2 separate regions of the Homo sapiens genome follow, and region 1 is linked to region 2. The links come from fine-mapping of genetic effects on gene expression. A gene starts in region 2. The other region holds a variant in brackets. All regions are shown on one strand. Distances are from middle to middle.

Region 1 (3,027 bases), 180 kb before region 2:
TATAATCACCGTAGGAAACTACTGTCCCCATTTTATAAAAGAGGAAATTGAGACTCAGAGAGCAGGATACACAACAGTGAATGCAAATCTCCTGATTGTAGTAAAAACAGGAACTATCTATCTTGTTCACCAGTTTATCCCCAGTGCCCAGACCCTCACTACTCAACATGTGGCCCATGGACATCGCTTGGGAGGCTGTTAGAAATTCAGAATCTCAGCCCTCTGCCCATCTCTGTTGAATCAGGATCTGCATTTTAACAAGATCCCTTGGTGGTTCATATGCACATTAATATTTGAGAAGCACTGGCCTAGAACATTGCCTGGCATGTAGTAGAGGCTCAGTAAATATTTGTCAAATGTTGAATGAATAAATATTCTCATAGCTGCCCCCTCTTTAAAGAGTCAGTCACAAAAGCTTTTCAATTTTTTTTCCCCAAAAACTTTCGGTAGTTTCAGAAATAAGATTCAAAGTGATGTTGTCAAACATTTGTTTCTGAAAGCTCATCTTTGTGCAGATTGACAGGAGGGTTTTCAGTGTTATGGATTCACAGTTCAGGAAAAGTCTCTGGCTGTATCTCTGGGTGTGCATTAGCAATTGAAAGGACCTCTAAGAAGACATTTCGCCAAAGAAGGTAAACTAACAAGGAAGTCATCTTATCATGATTCTTAGGTGGTTAAGAAGCCCTGTGCAGCCTCTTCTCAGAGCTGAACTTCATCTTCCTGACTCAGCCTTTGAACAAGTATTCAGACACATTAAAATACAGCCCTGATCCTCCCACCAGTAGAAAAAGAAAAAAGATTTTTGAAAGGTGTGGCAGTCAGTGTTAGGCAGGGGTCTCTTGGAAGGTATGGCGATGGAAAACAAGACCCCAAAGGACCACTCTGTGCCAAGCATTGTCTGTTAAATTTACCTCACCGTTGTGATTCCAGAAGAAACTTCCAAGCAAATGTGTCCATATTACCCTCTGTATAGAGTTGTCAGGCAGCAGCTCTCACCCTGTTATACATAAATGTTTCCTGAGGCTATCTAACTTTATACAGACTCCTTTTCGTTGGCAGTGTGGTGCCCTGTAGCACAGCTGGTCCTTACACAGTTGGTGAACTTTGTTTTGTTTACTCGTTCCCTTTGGTTCTCTGGCTATCCTGGCAAGGGACTTTTTGAAGCCACCACCTTAACTGAAAGAAGTAAATTTTATGATAGAAATTTCAAGTACTATGACAAGCCAATGAAAAATACAACTGGCACGGGCCATTTATGTCCTGTATAACACAGAGGCATCTTTGTGTATTCAGTCGATCATCACGTGGGTCAAGGGTGAGAATGACAGGAAGGCCATAATGCTCAAACCACTTAGTACCACTAGAT[G/A]GCAACACATTCTATTCGCATTTTCTCCACTTCTGTCCTCAGCCACATCCATAAATACTTCATCAACTTGGACATGTATTTGTAACATTGCGTTATTTATTTTCCTGGGTGAGCCTTTATGAGAAACTTTATCAGATTTTTTTAAAGCCATAAAACTCACATTATCCCAGGTCATGTTCCCTAAAGATTCACTTTCTCAGTGCATTTTAGAGGGTTAGAGGTGACAGTTTCCTCTTGAAGGAACTACTACACTATTCCCTCTGAGGAAATTGTTATCCAAGCATTTGTTTTTGAGTGTGCGTTAGCAATTTTATTTTCTTTTATATTGAAGGTAGTATCAAGATAACATCAAGGGAGGTCTTATTAAAATTCCCATCATCTTTTTATTTTTATTTTAAAATTGCAACTCAGTTTTACTTTTTTACATTTTGTCATATCTGCTAAGCACGCCTCAAAAGAGGCTATGAAAAAATTACTTCTGCCCTTAGGACTGCCTGTAGCTAACTGACCACAAAATTGCATCACCCCTTATGCCCTTATATCCTTGGTATTCTGTAAGTGTTTTTTGGATTTCTTCTTTTATATACATTTTTAGCTTCAGGACGGGTTTTAAAGATTTAGCCAAACCTATGCTTTTAGAATTGAATTGCCTTTATAACATCCCTGCAAATAATTGCCTTAACTATATTTGAATACACAAAGGGGCAAGGAATCTTCTGCCTGTCAAAGAAATTCATTTGCAGTAGTGGTACCAATTATGGTGTTAATGGCTCACACTGAGTGTTACATGTCAGGTACATTGTAAATTCCTTTATTTGTTCTTCATATGACAATATTTGGACACTACCCTGTTGTTTGTTCTCTGAATACATCCAACTTTTCCTCTATCCCCTCGTGATGTCCAGAATTTAATAGAAGATTCCAGGTAGGAGTTATCACCTTCCTTGTTCTAGCTCTGATACTTTTTAAAATTTATCCCAAAGTTGGAATATGTTAGAAAAAGTCAAGGGTAATACATTAAAAAGTTTAAATATAGTCACAGACAAGAGTGAAATTTTCTATTTTAAAATAGGCTTTAAAATTCTAGTTCTGGAGCTACAGCTGAAAGACCTAAGAATGTCAAATCTATAAGTGAAATGACAAATGAAAGCAGTTGCTTGTCTCACTGTGTTGCAATCTCTAGGGACCTGGCTTGAACCTATATCTCTCCCAGTAACTCTAAGAGAGCTACATTAGCGACATATGTTTTGGGTAAAAAATACAATTTTGTCTAAAAGTGGACTTCATTTAATGCTTTTTATTTATGTATTCCAGGGAGCCCTGGAACGTAATGAAAGCAAGATTCTTCATTTCCAGCTTGAACTCTTGGAAGCTAAAGCAGAACTTGAAAGAAAGCTTTCAGAGAAAGATGAAGAAATAGAAAATTTTAGGTATTTAAGATGATTTTGATGTGTAACAATTATGTATTTCTGAATCCTTGACTAAACAGAGCTCATTATGTCTGGCTGCTTTTATGGCCCCTGTTGGAGCATTACCAAAGAAACTTAGTGTAACTCTATATTATTTTCTTTTATATACAATATCTATAATCGTGTATAGATATTCCTTTATACACAATTAGATATCCTTTTATACACAATTGTGTATAGATATTCCTTTAT
Region 2 (2,500 bases):
TCGGGGAGAATCACTGTTTCAAAAAGGCAAAGACCAGGAAAGATCAATTTGGTAGTGGGGTAACATCAAATCCAATTTTCTCACTCAACTTTATTAAAAGCAGCTGGCTCATGACTTGTGGTAGGCAAGCAATGTTATTTATTTAAAAAGCAATTCTCAGTGGGCTGCCCTTCAGGTTATTCTCTACATAAGTCTGTAATTTTATGTACTTCCTTTCTTTAATGAAAAAATGGTATTTGCCCTTCTGACTTTTCACTTTGATAACCTTATTAGTATCAGAAACAAGTTAGCTGTAGACGGATTACAATGAAAAGTGTTCTCATTTTTTCTAATAAAAACAGGATATTGTAGATACATTTCAAATTTCAGTTGTCCAAAAATGTAGCCCTTCTATATTTTGTAGTGGCAGATACAAGAGATCAGAGAGCCCTTAAAAGTCACGTTATAAACATGAACATATGTTCAATCTCTTGTACTAAGTTTTCTTCCCAAAAACTGCCAGGCATCCACCACTTACCTCATTTTTTGCAACTGTTAAGAAAATTGCCTAATACAGAAGCCTTTTGAAAACTGTAAAGCTGGGCCATTTCTGTGGTCAGTTATGTACCTTTTCTTAAATTTTCTAGGTCAATAACTGCAGAATACAGTAGTAACACCCTATCTTTAGCCACCCTTAGAGCTTTAGGGCAGGGAAATTCCTTTTAAGACCATCTCTATTCTGTTGGATTTAACGAAGTACCCAAACACTTTATACTACATGTAATGGGTTTGAAACAGATTAAGCAGCAGGATGGAAGCTTAGTATTCTTGTTTTTGAAGTAAAACAAATCCTTCCAAATGCCTCCTTTTGTTCATTGTCTTCCTCATCCTTCCAACCACTTTCCTAGCACTGGAGTAACAGCCAGGCAACGTAATACAGTACTTCAAGCTTTACAATATACTGTTAAGTGCAGCATTGCCTAGTGAGAGAAAGATAAAATTAAAGAAAGAACGAGAGAAACCTCTCGTTGGAAAGTTCCTGCAGTAAAAGTGAAACCTATGGTATTGACTATCTTTACAACTATGAAAAACTTTTCAATTCTGAGAAAATAAAGGTATCAGTGAGCCAGTGCAGCCTTCAGTGCTACACGTCTTCACCTCCCTTTAATCTTTTTAACAGCTACTAGCTGACCCAGATGCCCGCTTAATTGCTTTTAGCAACCACCAGGTCCAACACACCTCAAGCCAGCTCAAGACTCACTAGGCAAGCGGAGCAGAAACGTAAGCCGGCTCCCTTCAGACTTTCAGCGAGGGAGAAGACGCAGCCGGCAGTGGGGCGCGAACGCCACGCCTCCATGAGGGGCGGGGCTGCTTCCCGACCACCATTTCCACAGAGGCAGGGCAAGAAGAGGGCCACAGGTGACGTCATTCAGGAAAGCCGCCCTGATTGGAGGGAAGGAGGCGGAGTCTAGTTTCCCTGGTGACGGATTGTCCGGTGGTCGCCTGGTAACCGGTCGTGGCTGTACTGGCGGCGGCAGGGCTGGCGGCTTAGGCCGCAGAGGTCTGTGGGCCTGAGCCCACGCTGGACTCTGTCCGTTCTGCGATGACTGCTGCTCTGGCCGTCGTCACGACGTCGGGTTTGGAAGATGGGGTGCCTAGGTCCCGTGGCGAAGGGACCGGGGAAGTGGTCTTGGAGCGGGGGCCCGGCGCGGCCTACCACATGTTCGTGGTGATGGAGGACTTGGTGGAGAAGCTGAAGCTGCTCCGCTACGAGGAGGAGTTCCTCCGGAAGAGCAACCTGAAGGCCCCGTCCAGGTGGGTGCCGGCGTCCCCGAGCGCCCGGGTGCCTGCTAGCCCCCAGGGAGATGCCCTCCTTGGTCCTGCTGGGAACCAGTTTCGTGAGAGCGGGTTAGCAATTCCTTGCCTCCGTCTTCCTAGCCAGGGAAGGGCACTTCACCCCAAACTCCCGGGAGGTCCGTGGAGCTCACGCAGCCCTGACTTGGTATTTTTGTAGAGAGAATAAATAAGTTTTGGAACGGCAGAAAGGATCGGAAGACAGCTTGCCTGTTTTTTTCCAACACACACGCATTACCAGAAAACACAAACTATATTTTCTGATTGTAAAGATGAAACAAATACTCATTGAAGAAAACTCAGAAAAACACAAGTAAATGTCTAGAAAAATTATAAGACCGTCCAAAATTCGCCTCCAGAGAGGAATGCCATTATCACTTAAGGCTTTTTTTCTAGTTTGGGGTTTTTTGTTGTTGTTTAAGACCCTGTTCATACAACTGGGGACCGTGGGTACTTAGGATCCTGTTAAGGAGCACTTTAAATGCGGTTAGTAAACTTGTTAACTACTTGCTATGGTTTAAAAGACTTCTGCCTTTGTAATAACCATACTCTCAGAAACTGAAAAGTGGAAAAGACGAATGACAACTATTGAATTGTCCCCCTATCATAGAACCTAAAGTTTTACCCTTGTTCCGGTGGGGGAAAAGTCCAACATATCCTGAAAGCA

The links.
Region 1: its variant is fine-mapped to the expression of IFT57 in sun-exposed skin (GTEx, PIP 0.99).

The regions. Positions count from the first base shown.
Region 1 is chr3:108,405,107-108,408,133 of GRCh38, reverse strand. MYH15 (myosin heavy chain 15) reads left to right here. Exons shown (of 41, transcript NM_014981.3): 33 at 2,681-2,796. Among named protein-coding and RNA genes, the nearest start is that of MYH15, 100 kb to the left of the region's middle. RefSeq lists enhancers at 1,088-1,147, 1,208-1,307. The variant G/A (reference allele first, on the strand shown) is at 1,367.
Region 2 is chr3:108,221,405-108,223,904 of GRCh38, reverse strand. It overlaps IFT57 (intraflagellar transport 57), which reads left to right and starts at 1,481. Exons shown (of 11, transcript NM_018010.4): 1 at 1,481-1,794. The coding sequence starts at 1,583. It overlaps LOC124909405 (a long non-coding RNA gene), which reads right to left and starts at 1,300. Exons shown (of 2, transcript XR_007095999.1): 1 at 1,219-1,300; 2 at 1-959. RefSeq lists a silencer at 1,274-1,567 and an enhancer at 1,503-1,762.